2 linked regions of the Homo sapiens genome follow. The protein of the gene in region 1 interacts with the protein of each later gene in a pairwise test. Each region holds a gene or a part of one and is shown in the gene's direction. Other genes may lie near its edges.

What was found.
Region 2: the proteins of TMEM8B (region 1) and CHRM2 interact in a two-hybrid assay, tested with the Homo sapiens proteins (one large-scale study listed by BioGRID and IntAct).

What each region holds. Positions count from the first base shown.
Region 1 is NC_000009.12:35,827,508-35,832,085, forward strand, and holds the start of TMEM8B (transmembrane protein 8B), read left to right. Parts: upstream 1-1,720; 5' UTR 1,721-1,940; coding exon 1,941-2,448; intron 2,449-4,578. UniProt on the Homo sapiens protein: May function as a regulator of the EGFR pathway. Probable tumor suppressor which may function in cell growth, proliferation and adhesion.
Region 2 is NC_000007.14:136,867,091-136,871,659, forward strand, and holds the start of CHRM2 (muscarinic acetylcholine receptor M2), read left to right. Parts: upstream 1-1,561; 5' UTR 1,562-1,902; intron 1,903-1,994; exon of another isoform or gene 1,995-2,083; intron 2,084-2,155; exon of another isoform or gene 2,156-2,170; 5' UTR 2,171-2,328; intron 2,329-4,569. UniProt on the Homo sapiens protein: The muscarinic acetylcholine receptor mediates various cellular responses, including inhibition of adenylate cyclase, breakdown of phosphoinositides and modulation of potassium channels through the action of G proteins.

The sequences.
Region 1 (4,578 bases):
TTCTGGGGTGAGTCTAGGATACGGTGGGGAGGGGGATATACCTAATTTATCCTGCAAGGATGTAGTCCTCCTTCCTGACCCAATCAGGATCTTTCTAAAGTGCAAGCCCAACAACTGGCACTTTGTGGCTTAAAAACATTCCATGACTCAGTCTAAAGGATTAAGTCCAAATTTCTTGGCCCTGGCATTCAAGGCCTGTCATCATTTTCAACACAGCCTGAGGATTCCTGCCTTAACTTTCCGTGCTCCCTACTTTACCCCCATGTTCCAGAGACGCTAGATATATCACTCCTTAAATGCATCAGAGCCTTTTTGAAGGGGATGTTTGGGAAGGGAATTAGGGGCAGAGGTAGGATTACAGGGAGGAAGATGACCAGAGTCAGCTAGAGAGAAAAGGGGCCTAAGAGTGGAGAACCAGAAGATGGGAGGTGAGGAAGGGGAAAGAGAAGGGGAGGAGGAAATTGGGTGGAGGAGGAGAGTAAGGATGAAAAGTACAGAATGTGGGCCAGGCATGGTGGCTCATGCCAGTAATCCCAGAATTTGGGAGGCCAAGGCGGGTGGATCACTTGAGGTCAGGAGTTCGAGACCAGCCTGGCCAACATGGTGAAACCCAGTCTCTACTAAAAATACAAAAATTAGCTGGGCATGGTGGCAGGCGCCTGTAGTCCCAGCTACTGGGGAGGCTGAAGCAAGCAAATCACTTGAACCTGGGAGGCGGAGGTTGCAGTGAGCCCAGATCGCACCACTGCACTCCAGCCTGGGGGACAGAGCGAGACTCTGTCTCAAACAACAACAACAACAACAACAACAACAACAACAACAACAACTACTACTACTACTACTACTACTACTACTACTACTACTACTACTACAACAATGTGAAGGGACTGAGGGGTGGGAGAAAGACAGATGTCTTTGAGGGAAGAGGGCAAGGGCCGTTGGAGAAACCACCTACCCTCTGGGCTTTGGCTTGGTTGTTACAAGTCCTTAGGTCAAGACCTTGACTTAGGATGGCAGGGGGAGGTGTTGATCCTCAGGGAGGAAAGGCTCTTGGTTGTGGATGTGCCTCAGCTGCAGGTGCTGAGTGTTGAAATGCCTTGCCTGAAAGTCTGCTATCTGGGAAGGGGACTTGGATATCTGCAGAACTTCGCAAAGGAGCTCTGGCATGACCTGGGGAAGTGGGTAGGGACAAGGGGTCTAGGGCCAATGAGGGAGGGTCTTGACTGAAGCCTCCGGAACCCGGGCCAGGAGAGTAGGCGCCGGTCACCAGGGCAACCGGAACGCCTAGTAGTCTCCGTGGCAACGGCGGTCTGGTCACCTCCCCGGTGGGTAAGGTCTCCTGAGGGGCTTGCATTGGGCCTCGAGGGGGCGAGCCCAGAGGGTTTACTTCTGAAAAGTGGGGTGTGTGTTGCGGGATCTCTGTGAGCGAGTGTTTGGGTAGGATCTGCGGAGATCTGTGCGTACGTCCGGGGGAGTCTGGGATTGTGAGGATAGGGTTCCTTTGAGACATCTGTGGGGCGGTCGTTGGGGGCTGTGAGGATCTGAGGGGACCTCGGGCTCTGTGCTTGGGGTGAGAAAGGCAGGGTCTCGGGTAGCTGAGGCGGGGGCGGAGTCTGTGTGTCCTCGAAGCCCAGCAGGACTAAGTTGGGGACCAATAGAGTAGGGCGGGGGCGGGCTTTACTGACAGGGACCAATCGAGCCGGCCGGGGGGCGGGGCGTCACGCCGACGTCAAGTCGAGGCCGCCGCCGCGGGGCCTGGTTATCGCCGGTTCAGCGCAGCCCGGAGTCGCCCAGGCCTGAACTCCTACCCAGGTCCCCGGCCCCCGCCCCGGGCCCGCGAGGACACCGGAGGCCACCCCCCGGGGGTGGGGAGCGGAGCCGCGGGCCAGCTCTGCGAGCGCCCCGCGCTGGCCTGTCCGGCCCCGCCCCCGCCCCGGGCCATGGCCCAGCCCTTGTCCCGGCCCCTCGTCCTATCCCAATCCCCGCCTTGGCCCCCAGCCCCGCCCTCGCCCCGCTTCCCACATCGGCCCCAGCCCCTGCCTGGGTCCCCATCCAGGACCCCCTTCCAGTCTCTGCCCCTGGCCTGGCCCCCATCCCGGCCTCGGCCCTCGTTCCACCCCCTGTCACAAATCCCAGCCCAGGCCCTGTCCCAGCCCCATTCCCAGTGTTTGCTTAAGGCCCTGGCTCAACCCCGTCCCTTGCTGCAGTCCCCATCACAGCCCTTCCTTCCATCCCACTCCCTGCCCTTGTTCAAGCCCCAGTGTCCAGCCCAGCCCAACCCATTATCTCAGCCTTTGCCCTCATCTCTGTGTTTACCCAAGTCTCTCCCTCTAGTCCCCCCTATCTCTCATACTCTGCCCCTCTCCCAGCCTAGACTCAAGTCTGGGTTTCAGCTGCCGCCAGCCCTATTGCTGCTGTTGCTGTTCTCTGTCCTTGGCCCAGGGGCTGGTGAGTGCAGAAGCAGGGAAGATTGAGGCAGGAATGGGGTTCCGGCAGGGAGGGGTGGGCTGGAGAGATTCAGGAGAGGTGGGACCTGGGGAACTAGATCATTGGGGAGCAAGTGGGAGAAATAGAGAGTAGAGAGGTCTTACACAACAGGGATTGGCAGGGTCAAAAGAGTGGTAATTAATTGGGTTTGAGGCTCAGCAGGTGGCTTACAGTTTCTAGCACAGAGACTCCAAGATTTTTTCTGGTGTCTGTCCTGACCCCACTTTGACTCTTGCTTTTCCAGGGAAATGTTGTGGGCTTTGCTCCTGCTCACAAAGTTTGATGGGGGAGAGACAGTCCCACACCAGAAGCCCCTAGTGTAGTGTGGGAATATATAGCCCAAACCTTTGAGATATTGGGCATGCATTCAAACGGCATGAAGAAGAGTTTTAAAGATAATATGTAGCAAATAGATGAATATGGATTAGTTGCCATTATAATGAGTTTTCTTCTTGTAATGATTCTTGTTCCAAAGAAGATTGATTTGCCTAGGAATAATTCCTGATACTTTTAGAGCAGGGCTGAAACTCGGAGGCTATTTTACAGATGGGGAAACTGAGGCTCAGGGAGGGAGCAATTTGTCCAAAGTCAGAGAGCTTGTGAATGGCAGTGTGCTGGGGCTAGAAAAAAGGTTTCCTAATTCCTATTTCATACTAGTGTGTTTTTTTTTATCCACTGCAATGTATACTTAATAGAAAAATAGACCCAAGTGGGGAAAGGCTCAAAGCATAACCTCCCTTCTCCCCGGTCTGCCCACAAGGGTGCTTTATCCACAAACTGTTCCTTATTTGCCAGGCGTCAGCCAAGGGCCACCCTCCGGTGGGGAAGTGACTTGGACAGAAGAGAGAGAGGTCCAATTTTTTAATGGTTGGAATGTGGGAGGAGGAGGGGGTGTCCTGGTCTAGGGGATGTGCCATGAAGATGGCTCCATCATGGAGTGACTGTAGTCTTCATGGCCCAAGTCTGTAGCCACCTCTGGTGGGTGTCACTCTAGATAGGATGGAGATGTGCCTGATGGAGTCTTTGGAAATAACAGCCAACAGAACAGCTGGGGGGTGGAGAATGGGTATCAGTGAGCTCTGGGGGCCTGGTTCAGTGTACAAACTTAAGGAGACGAATGCACGTGAAAGGTCACAACCCCTGCAGAGATGTCTGGTCACTTATGTGTATGTGTGTAACTGAGGGATTGTGGGGAGGCTGGCAGCATGTGTACATGCTTGTGTGTTGTTAAGTGTAGACACGTGCATGTGTGTGGGGTGCATGTGAGCCAGTGTATCTTCTGAGCGCCTGTGTTATGGTATGAAGGGGAGGGGACATGTTGTGGCCCATGTACATTCCTCTTCAGCTCTGCCTCCTCCTCATATGGACAGATCACTGAAGCTGTGAATGGGGCTGGAGACCCTTTCTCAGCAGTTCCAAGGGTGAGGGCAGTGTTGCATGCCTCCCATAACGAATATAAGTTATCCATCCATCCCCAGCCAGTGCCTTTGAAGGAAGGAGCTGTGGAGGCACTCTGTGTTGATTACTGCTGCTGGCAAATTGGACACTGGGCAGAGGCAGTAGCCAGTCAGGTTTTCAGTTTTGGTAAGGGGAAGTTTATGCTGTTGGGCCAAGTTCCTAGCTTCCATCCTCTGCCATCATGGCTTCTTCATGTGCCCATTGAGCAAGCATTGGGCTGGTGAGGGGAGCAGGGTGACCGACAGCCACAGAGCATATACAGCTGAAAGTTGTGGATAAAAACACTGTTGCCCAGAAGCAGGTTCAGGTGCTTTGGGGAGAATTGTAATGAAGTTGGAAAAGAGTACCAATACACCCAAATGGAGGCAGGGCTGCCTTTAGTGCTGTTAATAATGAATGCCTTGGCAATTTTGGACCAAAGTACAGGGTGCTCTGTGACCTAATGGTGGTGATGGGTTTTGTCTGAGGAGAGGCTGGCAGTGTCATAGGACCATCATGGCACAGGGCTGCACAGTGCTTATTGGTTGCTTCGGTTTCATTTCAGGAATGGAAGTTATCTCTTGGGTCTAGTGGTCCCACTCCTGATCCTTGGATCTTTTCCTTGGGCTTAGTTGAGGACTCACACGTGCCTTG
Region 2 (4,569 bases), on another chromosome or scaffold:
CAGTGGTTTTTGCTCTTGTGGATGGCCTTTAATACCTAGCAAAACCCTGGACGTCAAGAACTGAACTGAATTTAATTGACTATATTATATTATATCAATGTATCTTTAACTTGCTCTTTGTCTATCCCTGTGACCCAAAAAGTGATGTGTCCAATTCTGGGCTATTCAATTTAAGGTTTCCACTTCTTGCTCTTTATTTGATTGAAGTTGGATGAGAGAAAATAAAGCCTATGTAATATATAATATATTGATGTTATATTCACATACACATATGCTTTTACAAAAGCAAGTTTTGGCCTAAGCTACACTTTAGAATCCTATCATTGTACTTTTATCAAATGAGGTTAGTATCTAAAAATAATAGATACAATTATTGGCAGAAATTTCTCATTAAAATAAAGAAATAAACATCAAAGGCAGGTCTGAACACAGAAAGTTTGCATCCTAAATCTTTTTTCATGGAGATCACAAATTCCCTGAAGCATCAAACATATATATATTCTGGAGATATATATATATATATATATTTTTTTTTTTGAGAGAGATATATATATATATATTTTTGAGATATATATATATATTTTCTGGATATATATATATTTTCTGGATATATATATATTCTGGACATATATATATTCTGGATATATATATCCTGGACATATATATATATATTCTGGATATATATATCCTGGACATATATATATATATATATTCTGGATATATATATATATATTCTGGATATATATATCCTGGACATATATATATATATATATATATATATATATATATTCTGGATATATATATCCTGGACATATATATATATATATATTCTGGATATATATATATTCTGGATATATATATATATTCTGGATATATATATATATATTCTGGATATATATATATATATTCTGGATATATATATCTATATATTCTGGATATATATATCCTGGACATATATATATATATTCTAGATATATATATTCTGGATATACACATATTCTGAATATAGATATAGATACAGATATAGATATAGATATATTCTGTAGTCTACTGCCCATTAGCTGAAGAAAACATGGTCACTGGCTCATATTTAAAGTAAGAGAAAAAAATTACTTCTCCTTCGGATACATTTGTCAAAGCTCCAAAGAAATAAACAATCTGTGAATAGTTCAGCACAATTATATATTTACAAAGCATAGTGGATTTAGTCTAACATTTTCCCACCTGGAAAAACTGGGCTTAAGTATCTCCGACAAACAAAAAGCAATACTGCGTTCTTCCCAATATGCCATGTCACCTTTGTAGCACTCACACACTTGCAGGGAAGGGACTCGGGGTTGGGGGTGGTTCTGATGTAGAAATTGCAGATGGAGAGCTGGGCTCTGGGGATGGAAATGGAGAGAAGCGAAAAAGAGCCTGGAGAAACGGCTGTCATATTTGCTCAGAAGAACCGCCAAATCAGAGAGCACAGAAGATTTCATTGGAGGAGCGCCTTCAACAGCAACTAATCCTGTCATACTGAAAGAAAATTGTAAATGTTCTCTCCAGAAATTGTCCGCCCATTGCAGCTAATCGAACACACACGCACGAATACAGACACGCTCTCCTGCTGTACTAAAGGCGCCAGGGCGCAAAGACCTAGGGAGCGCGCGCGGGCACACACACACACACACACACACACACAGACACACACACACTCACACACTCCAGGCTGCGGGTTGGCCAGAGCCTGGAAATCGCAGATTTCACCAGGAAATCGCCGAGGTACCCGAATAGGTGTTGCCTCCCAAAACTAATTCCTACTTCCCCAAGCACTTTGGTGAAGAAATGAATCCAGCCCAGCTCGCCGAGGCATCCAGGTCTCCATTCTATTTTGGTCTCCAGGCTCTTCGTGAAAGCCAGGTTTGAAAGTCTTGTTTGCTTCTCCTTTAGTGGTTTGGCGTGGAGGGCGGGGGCAGCGTCAATTTAACTCCAGTCTAAACCACGAACAGGTCACAGACTAGCCAAGTGGCTGAGACGAGTGTGGGGTGCGTGACTCTGCCTGCGCGCGCGCCAGCCCCGCAGCTCTCGCCAGAGCCTTGGGGTCGGTTCTCTCCCGCCTCTCCCGCCTCTCCCGCCCCACCCCTACAGTGTCTCGGCATCAACTAATCTTTTCCTTTTCTTTTGCAAGATCAAGGGAGAAAGAGAACCGGCAGCTGGCCTCGGACTCTAAGCGGTGCGCAGCTCCAGCCCGAGCGGATCGGCCCTGAACCCACAAAGGACTCCTCGCTCCTTCAAGCCTCCACCACCTCGCAGCCGGGGAGGCAACTGGAGCGAAACCAGCGACAGGTAAGGGCCCCGCGCTGTGCAGCTCTCCGCTTACCCACTCCAAGGGCCCTGGCACCAGGGGGTCTCTCCCTTCATATCCCCCCAAGCCGGAGGCTCAGGGGTCGGGGCTTGGGGGAATTGGAGGGAGGTCCTCCCCACGTGCAGATTCTCAAACGGAAACTTTGGATCCTGGGGCTTGGAGGGTTGCGAGCAGTGATGGCGGGTCTGAAAGGAAGGGGCAAACGAGGCACAGCGCGAGGCGAGGTACCCCTACGATTCCGACGGTCACTGAGTCCAGCCGAATGTGGCGAAAGCAGCCTGGGAGCTGCGCTGTCCCGGCGTCGCTCCCTATTCCAGCCCCCCATTCCCTCTACTGTTGCTGACCCCCCTCCCGCCACCCACTCCAGATGCAGCCATGGACAAGACAAGGAGAGCTTCGTCCCTCCCGCCCCTCGGGTTCCTTCCTGCTGGGGTCTGACCGCGTCTTCTGTGCGTGTGGGATGGAGGCCCGGCTCGCTCGGGCTCCGAGCTGTCCCCCGGCTCCGCTTTCGGAGCAGCCCTTGGGCGCTGGAGAGGTTTCCCATTGCGGTCTCCAGGTCATGGCCAAGGAGGAGAAGCAATTAGAATGGGGGAAAGGGTCCCAAGACAAAGGAGAGGGAAGCATTCTGCAATCCCATCCTATTTGAGCCCCGCGCAGGAGCTGGACTGTCCGCCGTGGCTGGGGGACAAGGTCTCAGCCCGAAGCTCATGAGGTACCAGACAGTGCCTGGGCTTCGCCACCTAACTCACAATGGGTCCTGAACCGCCCGGGCAGTCCCCGGGGTCGTAGACTGGGGACCGCTGCACCCCTCCCCGCCCGCAATGTCCCTTGGAGTCCGCACCTGAGGTCCCAGGCAATCGCCGCTAACTTGTAGCTCTCGGACACGGACAGGTGCGGTCCATGCCTGGTGCCGGTAGACGCGCAGAAATTCCACCTGTGCGCGCTGCCCGGCGCCCCTGGGGCCCCTCACGGGGTAAGTAGAGACTCATCTGGGAGAGGTGAAAATTCCCCAGAATTATTGACACACACGGCGGCACACCCTTTGCCTCCGTCCGCCTCCAGCATCCGCATCCCTTTCTCTATCTTCCTGCCCATTGCCGTCCTCGAGGCTGCCCTGAGATACAGAATTGTCCCAGGCTGAGTCCACCGACCCGCCAGTCCCTGGCGATGATGCCAAGGCTCTTGCATGTACGGAAATACCAGCAGGGAGGTTCGCCAGGGGCAGAGAGGCTGGAGGAGAACAGAGAATTGGAGGTAAACGCGTAAAGCCAGCAGAACTGTCGGTGGACATTTCACCCAGGCCGCCCTCCCGCGTCTTTAAGTCAGTTCACCGCCACAGCACGTCTGTGACTGCGGCCACCCAGGGCTCCAAGTCTGCCAGCCCAGGCGCCGCGAGCCAAGAAGAGCGCGGCGCCTCCCACTCCTCAAGCTCCGGAATCCCCCACATCGACTTTCTATTTCCCTGTCTTCTTTTCTTTTTTGTTTGTTTTGCTTTTCCTGCTCTTTTCTTAGCGCTGGGTGGCAGTGGGTATGCGGCAGCCGTGTGATTTGCCCATCCCCTAGTACACGCAGCCAGCGACACAAGCACACAGCGACCAGTCCCCACGCTGTGCCACACACCCTCCAGCGGTCCGGCGCGCAGCCCCTGCTCCACAGCCCGGGACGCCTGCAGCCACCGCCAGGGTCATGGCCATGGCCCACGCAGGGCTCTGCGGGTGGAGAGGGGAAGTCAGCCTAGACTCCAGAGAGAAACCCTGGGGCAACCCGAAAGGCCTGAGGAAAACTGGAATTGGGGTTAGGCATGAGGGGAGGGAGTCTCTGGGGAAAACGGGCCGGGCTGTGCGGAGCCCTGAGGGCTCCTGCGGCTGCAGCGCTGCAGGCCGCCCGCGTCTCGCCCCGCCCCGCCGCTGGGCGTCCCCGCCAGGAGCCCACCCGCGGGCGGCAGCTTTTCTCCATGCTGCCCAGGGAAGTTCGATGCCTGGTGCTGGGATGCGCCAGCGCTTCTGTTCGCTTCTGGCAATCCTGGCGTCTCCCAATGAGAGGGCTCTCAAAATGAAGCTTTTAATAAACTCCAGAGTAAGGAACTCGGGATTGTGCGGCAAAGGCCGCGCATTGCACTTTGTGAGCAATCGGTAAATATGCGCAACCATATGATAGGAAATATATGCATTTTCATTGATAAGAAAAAAAGAGATGATGGTATTTTTAAACAGAAGCCACAA